Regions from separate parts of the Homo sapiens genome. Here region 1 is linked to region 2. Evidence: fine-mapped QTL for protein levels in blood plasma. Region 2 holds a variant in brackets. A gene starts in the other region. All regions are shown on their forward strands.

Region 1 (5,365 bases), not on the chromosome of region 2:
ATATTCATACAGTCTTCTTGGTGAAAGTGAATAACAGTTCTAATTGCATCCTCATTTTTGGAACTGTTCTCTTAGGTATATTATGCTGATGAGCTAGGAAGCACTGGGGGCCAAGGAGACAGATAATTCTTTCCAGAAGTATAGTTCTGTGGGTCCCCTTTCCTGTTTTGCCAAGGTCCAGTGTAATTTATTCATTTGCCTATATTGTTTTTTTAACTTACTTTTAATTTGTGATTCTTACTGATAATAAAATTGGATAACTATATTTATTTATTTATGCAACAAATATTTATTGAGTGCCTATTATGTGCCAAGCACTTTTCTAGATACGCGGATATTAGGGAATCAAACAGATAAACCCCTGCCCTCACAGAGCTTACCTTCTAGTAAGGTAAGCTCTAACTGGGGGATGCTTTTGTGGAATTTGGTAGTTTTCAAACTGGAGTTTTCATTTCTTATGACCAAAGTCTCCCTACTCCAATCCAAGCATTTTATTGTTACCAAATTCACTTTATAAAAGTAGAAAATGTATCATGTAATATCCACCTAGAAAAAAAAATCAATTGATGCCTCCATATTGCCTTATAAATAAAATCCTTATTTCTCTCTATGGCATTCAAGTTGTGATTTGATGCTGAATTACTTGTTTGGCATCTGCCCCAAATTAGGGATCTGTATCCATCCTGAGAAGCCTTATGCTTTCTCTTTTATTGCAAAATGGACATTTCAGGACACCAAAAGATGTAAACTTGTTACAGAAATTCACCATATGTTCATTCCCTATAAATACTCAAAAGATACTAGCTCTTCCCCGTGTTACTGTCAGTCCTTTGCTAGAAGTTGCCTACTCTGTAATGCTGAGCTCTAATTGTTTGCTCAGCTTGGGGACCTATACAGAACAGGTGTGGAGTAGGAGAAGGAAAGCCCAACTATGGGGTGGATTTCCAGGTCATCTGCTCTAGTACCTGAAAAGGGCTCCTGGTTTTCATTACTTTTTCTGCTGAAAGCAGCCGATTCTCTAAACAATAGTTGTGGCTATTATATATGTTTCCATTTCTTCTCTAGGCCAGAAATGTGGATATTTTTATGCATATCTTACTGTAAGCACATCATATTTTAAGCATATCTTACTTTTGGCATATCTTACTGTAACAGTCACAGTCTAGGTAGGAAACAGGAGGTGCACTGTAAGTGATTTTACTGAAAAGAATGTAATGAAGAGACAATTTCAGAGGTATTAACTGGGTTAAGAGAACTAGGGGAGGCCGGGCGTGGTGGCTCGTGCCTGTAATCCCAGCACTTTGGGAGGCCGAGGTGGGCGGATCACTTGAGGCCAGGAGTTCCAGACCAGCCTGGCCAACATGCCAAAACCCTGCCTCTACTAAAAATACAAAAGATTAGCCAGGCGTTGTGGTGCACACCTGTAATCCCAGCTACTCGGGAGGCTGAGGCACGAGAATCACTGGAACCTGGGAGGCAGAAGTTGCAGTGAGCCAAAAGGAACTAGGGGAAGCCATCACACTCTAGGCCTGAAGGGACACTGGAAACAAATTGTTTTATTAGAGACCCATGAGAGCTGAGGCCATGGAAAAGAGGCCTCTACACAGGCCCTGTAGTCATAGAGGGACAGGACTGTGGCCAAAATTTTGGGTTAAAGGAAAGAAGAATACTCTGATATTTCTCTCCTCCCTTCTTTTGATTTTCTGCCAGTGCTTCCCATTGGTCAATCACAACAGGAAGCCACAGGTCAAAGGGGCCTAGTGATTTATCTGTAGGCATCCAAAGGCACGGCTTGGTAGAGAAGTAGAAACGATAGATTTGGGGAGGGAAACAGAAAATACTGCTGTTATAAATATTCTCTAGACCACAGGAAGTTAAAAAAAATTACTAGATTACAGGACAATTAAAAAATTCCCATAAATCTACCTTTCTAATACCACTTCCTTCTTATTCCCACATTTAACCTGCTGAGTGTTATCTCTGCCTAGCACTGGGGTGGGTAAACTTTTCCTGTAAAGCATATTTTAGACTTTGAGGCTTAAGAGGCAAGGTCGAAAATATTATGTCCTATTTATGTAGTGATTTGAAATGTAATTATTTGAACATATAAAAAACAGTCATTCAAATTCAGTGGCGTAGATTTGGCCTGTGGGCTATACTTTGCTACCCTCTGGCCTTGAAAGTCTTCTAAATTTTTGCTAGCCTAAAATCCACCTACTTTTCAATGTCAAGTTCAAATAAAACCTCCCCTACGTGGCCTCTCATACTGGGACTCTGAGCTGTGAGTGACAGAAAATCAACTATTACTAGCTTAAGCAAAACTGAGGATAAGTTGAGAGTTTGCGGGTTGTAGATCCCAGAATCCAGGAGTTGCTGAAATGCCAGCTGCTCTGGGGATATCCTGCTTTGCTACTGTGGTAACATCAGAACATGCCCTCTTCATCTCCCTTTCTCTTCTCTTTGCTTCTGTCTTCAGTTTGGCCTCATCATCTCCTAGAGGCAGATCTTTTCCACAAGAAACAGAATATGTAACTCTTTATGTACCCAGGAAAGTATTCTGTTTGACCTGTCTTGGTCACCCAGCCACCCTTCGATGAACCCATGTCGGTGGAGGAAGGGGGAAGAGTGATGGGGTAGTCTCGAGGTTCAGACATGGCACACGTTTGGGAGAGAAGCTCACCTCTGAGGAGTGGGGAAAGAGGCAGTTTCCCAAAAGGAGGATGCATTCTGTTGCCAGGAGATGAAACAGGAGAGGTTGTCTATTTTAGAGAGATAGAAATGTCACAATTACAATCCAATGTGTGCAGCGCTATAACAGAGATAAGTCTGACGCCTCGTTATCACCCACAGTACCTAACATCACACTTGGTAGACACATTCATGCGATTTTGATGAATGAATGACTCAGTTCTCCCAGCTGATTGTGTACACACTCTACTCCAAACTGGCCCAGAATTTTATCAGCTGCTCTTCATTCTGTACGTTGTATTTGGGGTTTTTATGGCCATCTACCATCTCTCCTCTAATTCCGGGTGCAAAAAGAGTGTATGAGAGAGAGGCAAGCATGCAGTAAACATCCTGTGTTAATCTCAATCCCAGAACCAGACCACAGAATGCTGACTACACCGCTCACGGGAAAGACTATGTTTTAGGTGACCCGTGTGGCCTTTTTGTTGAGGCCTTTAGGATACAAGGCCCCCACCTAAAGACGCGACCCTCCCGTAGGAGGGGGGCAGGGCCCGGGGGCGGGAGCACAGCGGGGCCCCAGCCTCAGGCGGCGCGTCACTGAGCACAAAGGAGACAACAGCGAGGCGGCAGCGGGCGCTGATCTTCGCTCGCCAGCCACTCGCAATTGCGGTTACAGACCTGCAGCTCCCCCTCCCCCAGCCGGCCCGCCCGCCTTTCTGTCTCCTCTCTCCCTCCGTACTGGACGGCCCCGGTCCATTTCCGGGCTCCGGATATTTGGTATCGATTGGGGCCGGGGACGCGGAGCAGGTGGCCGCGGCGGGGCAGCTGGGCCGCCAGCTTGGTGCCTCGGGGACCGTCTCCCGCTGCTTTGGTCACCAGCCCCTGCCCGCCCGACCCGCTCCGTTCTCCGGCCTGCGAGCCCTGCCGGCCGGACTTTGCGCCGCGTCCGGCGCTGCTGCTGCGCTCGGGGCCCCGCTCGGCGCCGGCGGTGACCGGGAAGCCCGCGTTAAAGGGGCAACCGGGACCCTGGCCCGGTATGGCTGAAGTCAGCATCGACCAGTCCAAGCTGCCTGGAGTCAAGGAAGGTAAGGGCCCCGGAGGGAGAGCGCGCGGGACCCTCCCCTCTCCCAGCCCGAGGTTCTCTCAGGTCAGGGGCGTTGCCATTTCGGCTCCCGCGGCCCTCGCCCGGTGCCCGCCCTGCGTTGGCCTTGCCCGGACGTGAAAGGAATTGAATTCAGGTTCTAGTGTGGGACGTTGGGCAAGTCTCCGACGTTCCAAGCCCGTTTTTTCTCAAGGGGGTGGTTGGGGGGGGGGGGGGCTAGCAGCAGCCCCAGCAAGTAGGTGGCTGTGCCCGTGTTCTCGTGCATCGCAAAGCCTCAGTGGACGCTGAGAGCCGGGTGAATCTGACTTACTCCGCTTCTAAAAAATCGAGGCCCAGCCTGGCTGGCTTGAAGGCTGGGAAGTGGAGAGGGGTTGACATTCAGTTCCGTGTGGAGCCTTTGTTTTGAAACATGACTCTTTCCCTCCTTCTCTCCCTACTTTTCCTAGGCCGGCGTCTGGCTGGCTGACTTTCCCACCTTCCTCAAGGTTTAAAAGTTTAGTCTTGGCTGTGTTCTGCGCGGGCGGGAAGCCACTATAAGCATTTTCTTACAAACAAAACACACACACACACACACACACACACACACACAATAGTGAGCGAGGGGAACAGGGGACTGATGGCCTTGTCATTGCTTTTTGTACCAATGTCCAGGAAAGTAGAGATTAGTACTGACCTGGCTTTAGCTGACAGCAAGTAGCCTTTTGACTTCCCTTCTCTTGTTTTTCCACTAGCTGCCTCAGGACCTAGCTTTTTTTTGCTGAGATCTTAGGTGCTGGATCGCCTTATGCCTTGAGTTATCTTTGTTTATTCTTTGGTCCTAGGAAGCATAGACGTTCCAGAGTGCTGACGCAGACCCCTAAGTTCCAAGGGCTTTGCAAAATCGGCTTCTGTTGTGAATGTCATTTGTATCGATTGAATACTGTAGCCTGAGGCGTCTTGGAGATGTGGAATTGAAAATAGTTTTTGCTTTCTTGGAACCGCTTGTTTTATTGCCAACTTAATTTGACTCCGTTGGTCTTGTGTGTGCTCAGGCCAGCCCAAAAATCTCAGGAAAATGAGGGACTGCTTGATTGCTTTCTCAGAGTTTCAAGCACTAGGAGACTAGTGACTAGTGGTCACTGATTTTATGTAGAATTTCTGATGGGCCTAGTTCTGTCTTACTGTTCCGGAAGGGTGTTAAAGCTTAGGCGTGAGATTTTAGCGTTAATACTTTTCTACCTTTCCGTCCCTGGTATGGCTTTGATGAAGACTTAGGGCTTTCACCTGTAGAAAACAGTTTTCACTCTGCTGTCAAGACTAAGGAGGCTGAGCGATAGGAAAGGCGGATCCATACTTTTGAGAGTTCTTATCTTAGAGATTGTCTGGTTATCCTTTACTTTTGGATATGAGGGTTTTTTGTGTGGGTATGTGTTGGGTTTGTCTCTAGAGAAAGAGTGATCCTTGTGCAGTGTGTAGTGCATGGTGAGTAGAATGAGAATTGGAGTTCAAACAAAACCTGGTATGTATAGTATTAATCATATGGTGCTATGATTTTATCCAATCCCCTATTCATGTGAGTGAAAAAACATAAAACTC
Region 2 (5,374 bases):
CCAGTTCACAGGGCCCAGGACACCCCCTCGTGGTCTCAGATGCCCCTGCAGCGAGGTTTGTGTCTGGGCTCACATTGACTTCCCCTCACTGTGTCTCTTGCACAGTAATACACAGCCGTGTCCTCGGCTCTCAGACTGTTCATTTGCAGATACAGCGTGTTCTTGGCGTTGTCTCTGGAGATGGTGAATCGGCCCTTCACGGAGTCCGCGTAGCTTGTGCTACTCCCATCACTATTAATACGTGAGACCCACACCAGCCCCTTCCCTGGAGCTTGGCGGACCCAGTGCATCCAGTAGCTACTGAAGGTGAATCCAGAGGCTGCACAGGAGAGTCTCAGGGACCCCCCAGGCTGAACTAAGCCTCCCCCGGACTCCACCAGCTGCACCTCACACTGGACACCTGCAAACACAGAGACACCCTGGTCAGAAACTGCCACACACATCCACTGCTTATCTCACTCATGTCCATTCACACTCCATATCTCCAGTTCTCCATGAATCACCTTTTAAAATAGCAACAAGGAAAACCCAGCTCAGCCCAAACTCCATGGTGAGTTCTCTGTGTGCAGTCCTGATCAGCAAGCAGAAACAGCTGGGAATCCCAGGGCTGGGGCTCCTCTCCCAGAGCTGCAGGGCTGGTTTTCTTCAGCAGAGTGAGGGCCCTATTTGCATGTCTCCTACTATATATCAAGCTCTGGGGTGAGACACCTGAAGAAAGAGCAGGACCCAGGGCAGATGAAAGTGTCCTGAGGAAGATGGGTGACAACAATGGGATTTGAGAAATTGTGCTTATTATGAAACTGTGCTGTGATAAAATCTTCACACTGATCACCTTATTTCAGATTTACCTATGTGTGTAAATTATGTTCTGTAAGAGTCAATGTTCTCTACTTACAGATGTAAGATAAATCCACACATGGATGGGCTCTCTGTGTATCTAAGAGCTCATGTCTGGGATGAGTGAGTTCTGGTATCTGGGCCTGCACTTCTCACCACTGGCCCTGACTCCTCCCTTAGCCAACTCCAGGACACAGCCGGCCAGGCCTAGTGTGGTTTGCAGAAGCCACTGCCTAATCAGAATATGGATGATTTTCCTGCACTCTCCTGTTTACCTTAAACTATGGAGAGAACTAGGGTTCAGGTAGATAAACTTTCAGGTATCTCTGACATTCAACATACTCATATCTATCTTTCTGTCACTCCTACATTGTCTAATTTTCAACTTGTTTCCTCATAATACATTTTATAAGATTTGATTGACAGATTATAAACTTTACATATTTAAAGTGTAAAACTGATAATCATGGCATAACTATTACCATTATAAGGAAGGTGGACAAGTGAAATTCCCTCAACTTCTTTTCTGTCCTTCTACTTCCTATTTCTATTTCCTTATCCTTTCTCCTTCCCTTCTGCCAACATATTCCCAGGAAACTACTAATCTTCTTTATATTACTTTAGATCAGTTTTCATTTTCCAGAATTTTTAAAAATAGAATCATACATACTCTTATTTGTTTGGCTTATTTTACTCAATTTAAATACTTGATAATTTTATCTTCTTATTTTGTGTATCAGACATTCCCTTATTATGAATGATGGGTAATATTCCAGCGAACAATGTTACCATGATTTGTTTTTCTATTAGGCAGCTGATAAATATTTGGATTCTTTTATTATTTTTGGTGTTAATAAAAATTTTGTTATTCAGGTTTGAAATGTACATAGATGAGAATTTCTTTTTTTTACAACAAGAATAAAATCAACAATAACTGTTAATCAGAGAAAATGGACTTTTGCAAATTTTCTTTAATACTTCAGATCATTGAAATTTTAAGACAATCAACAAATCTGAAATCTAGAGAGAGACAAGTTTTTGTAGGGAGAATCAAAGCTAGAGTATGAGCTGAACTGGGGCAGAGTTCACCAAATGCAATAAAGGCTAGTACAAGATAAAATACACTAATATACATTGAACTGTTTTGAGTCGAGTGTGATAAGCATGTTTTTAGTGAGAAATTCTCAGGAACCACATACTGGAGAGTTTTTCTATTCTTTTGAATGCCTTTCCCTTATAATGAGAATAGTCACAAAAATCTTCCCTTCCCAAAGTGTCTGTCTGGGGTGTATCAGAGCCCACACTTCTGAAATGCTTCCAGAGCCAAGTCTCTTACACCCACTAGAGAACTAAGAAATTACTCAACAGGGGCAAACCACCAAAACCAGTATCCTAAATGCACTGGTTTAACCCCTCAGGAACTGAGATGGGAACAGAGCTCCCCAGCAAGGTTCTACTGGGAAGCAGCTCCCCTCTCTTA[C/T]GGAATCAGAGCCTTAGTCTGCAGAGCAGGGCAGCAGAGCTGGAAGGTGATGACACCGATGGAGAACACTGCAGCTGTGGGAGGGAACGCCAGGGAAACAGGGGGCTCCACTCCGGGGGAAGGGGAGCTGCGGAGCAAGGCAGAAAGGAGCCCCCATGTCAAACTTCGGGGTTCCAGGGAGGGAAGTGGAAGTGGCGCCTCCTTGAAAACCCGGGCAGCGGAGCAGCCGCTGTGCCCACCCCGCCTAGGGTGCGGGGTTCCTGGGCCTTGGGAGGTTCTGTGCAGGCTGCTTGGGCCGCGTCCCCAGGGTTCAGCCGCATGTCAGGGTGACCATGGAGGCCGCCACTCCCGACTACGGGCCGGGGTCGTCATCAGCTCTGCCCGGGCCTCCCTGAGCACCGGGGCAATGCGGGGAGCTTGTGGAGATGTCACTCCTGCCCTGGACGCCGGCCAGGGCCCAGAGAGGATCAGGAGCCCCTGCCCAGGCTGCAAGGAGGGGTGGAGGGGCTGATGCTCCTCGGAGCCGGTGGGAGCCAGGAGCAGGCAGCAGCTCTCATCTCTCAGGTGCGGCTCCAGCTGCGCAAACCAGGGCAGTGGGCTCGGACTCTGTGCTCTTGGAGGTCGAGGAACAGGAAGGAGCCCTGCCTCCCCGGCTGTGGCTGCAGCCTCCCAAACTGCGGCTGAAGACACGGGCCTCTCGCTCCATGAAGCCGGCAGAAGCCCTGCTCCGCAAACCGGGGGCTGCGGCCTCAGGCGCCCCTGCACTCTTGGGGTCCCCAGGAAAAGCCCTGTGCTCTTGCATGCTCCGAAGTGCCTGCTCCCACTTCCTGGCTTCTTCCTGCTGCTGGTGCCTGCTCTGATCTTGGAGCAAAGTCAGGGCGGAGCCCCAGGGACCATGAACTACAACAGGAGGCAGGAAGATTCCTGTGCACAGGGGCGGGTCCCCAGGAAGGGCCTGAAGGCTGGGCCGGGGCTCCCAGATCCTCAGACCAGAGTCGGGACTTGTGGTGCTTCCTACGGCCCACCCATGAGCACCCATGGACCAATGGGCTTGCACTTCCTCCCCTCGGAGGTCCGTAAAAACCCCTGGCCTCAGCTGGAGCAGGACAGAGGATGGAGAGACGACAGGACGACCAGCTGCAGGGAGGAGCTACCCTCTCTCCTGAGAAATGGGAAGACCACAGGACGACCAGCTGCAGGGAGGAGCTACCCTCTCTCCTGAGAACTGGGAAGACCACAGGACGACCGGCTGCAGGGAGGAGCTACCCTCTCTGCTTAGAGCTGAACACTCAACCAGTCTACCTGCCTACAGAGAGGAGCTACTCACTGGGGGTCTCCTCTGAGATGCTCTAATGCTTAATGAAGCTAGGCTTTGTCTTGCTTACCCTCCACATGGCTGCATACTTCATTCTTTCCACATGTAGGACAAGAACTCAGGCAAAAGTGCCACTGGCCACAGAGGGTTCTGGCCAGAAAAAGCAACACCCCAGTGACTCAGAAACAACCGTAGTGAATACTGTTGGCCATGGAAACATAGTAGTAATTATTTGTGTATCTAAACATAAAGAGATATAGATAAGTAAGGAAGTATAGCACCGTGGAACCACCATCTGTTACTGGCAGAAACTTTGTTATGCAGCAAATAACTGGATTTAAATTTCTGGGGGGAAAAAGCAGCCAACCAAGAACCTAAAATTGATAAAACATCTCTTATGAAATGAAGGATAGAGAAATACTTCCCAGACAAAGGAAAACTGAGGAAATTCATCATCACTAGAATTACCTCACAAGAAATGTCAAAGGATCTCAACTAGGTACCCAGTAGATTGAAGCTCCTGTTTCAGCCCCACCCTGGCATCTACCATGTGATTGTTCTGTGTAGATTTGGTTTATGCTGTCTTAGGGTTTTTCCTCTCTTGAGTCATATCTCCCTTCCCCTCCTTATTTTCAGTCTATCACCACAATTCATATTTAGCCAAGAACAGCGGAGCCTTTGGAAGAGATTCCTATCTTTCCTTCACCAGGTCTAATGAGCTCTCTTCATGGGTGTCCATCTCTGTTTTGCTTTCTCGCATTCCCGTGGGATGATGGCCTTGTTCCTATTTCAGCCCTGCCCACATTTTCATATACATGAGCCATCCTACAACCGCCCATCCAGGAACATCTGGAGGGAATGGACCTTACCACATGCCTCATCAGCGTCCATGTGCATGGTGATCATTCCTTCAGCTTTCACACATGCTCTAGGGCTTCCCACTCAAAAGTGCCTTTCACCACCCTCCAAAACTGCAGCTCTTACACCCTCAATAACTCCGAGAGAGATTCACCTTTCTGCTCCTCTGTAACATAACACCGTGAACTGTTCCCCAGTCTCACTAAATCTATACACAAGTCACCTTGTCTTTATTTGAAGCACTTTGTGGATGGGTTCTTACACATCATGGTTCATCTTGCAGTGTTTTGTGTAGGTAAAGGTGGCAGTGAAGTCAACTGGCAGTCACACAACACCTGACTCTTGAGCCCACAGGAGCACTGACCATAACAATGGAAAATAATTAAAATATGCTGAAAATATGCTATATAACTCTGAGTGCTTAAAGAAACTGTGAACAAAAACAACAAATAAAAAGTGAGGATCATATGCAGAAAATATCTACAGAAAGGTTGTAACTGTAGTTGTGCTCATTTTATCAACAGGGTGATTTCTGAGCAACACATGAAGCTTCCAATGTGGAATCATTTTTACTGACATAACATAAAGCAACAAAATATCAGTTTTGCGGGGTGATTAGAACAAGGGAGTGACTTGTAGTATTTGAGGTAAAAAGGTAAACAGATCCTACACAACACTGGATCTTATGGCATTGTTTCCATTTAGTGTGGAATGCACAATTCAGTAGCTCTTTATCTCAACATGATTTATTTATCAGGACTCTTCTTACTATCATTGAATTATATATTATTTGAAGGAAAATAAATATTCAGGTGACAATTATTGTTTCTATAGTTCATGTCCAATTTCAATTATTTATGTTTTATGGATATTTCTTGACTATT

Alleles and levels. Alleles are on the strand shown, and positions count from the first base shown. The strength of an association depends on the size of the effect and on how common the allele is.
For the plasma level of the protein whose gene starts at base 3,444 in region 1, C is the high allele of the variant in region 2 and T is the other (strong association).

Evidence for each region. PIP is the posterior inclusion probability: the model's chance that the variant is causal. Protein levels are from antibody-based Olink assays in UK Biobank. Linkage for the fine-mapping came from a reference panel and not from the study's own genotypes, which makes the PIPs less certain.
Region 1: CCDC50 starts here. The variant in region 2 is fine-mapped to the plasma level of the CCDC50 protein (UK Biobank, PIP above 0.99).

The regions. Positions count from the first base shown.
Region 1 is chr3:191,325,951-191,331,315 of GRCh38, forward strand. CCDC50 (coiled-coil domain containing 50) reads left to right here and starts at 3,444. Exons shown (of 12, transcript NM_178335.3): 1 at 3,444-3,773. The coding sequence starts at 3,725. UTS2B (urotensin 2B) reads right to left here and starts at 4,576. Exons shown (of 9, transcript NM_198152.5): 1 at 4,464-4,576; 2 at 2,681-2,759. RefSeq lists enhancers at 3,011-3,612, 3,613-4,213 and silencers at 3,140-3,219, 3,320-3,599.
Region 2 is chr14:106,810,347-106,815,720 of GRCh38, forward strand. It overlaps IGH and IGHV3-74. Among named protein-coding and RNA genes, the nearest start is that of MIR5195, 38 kb to the right of the region's middle. The variant C/T (reference allele first, on the strand shown) is at 2,318.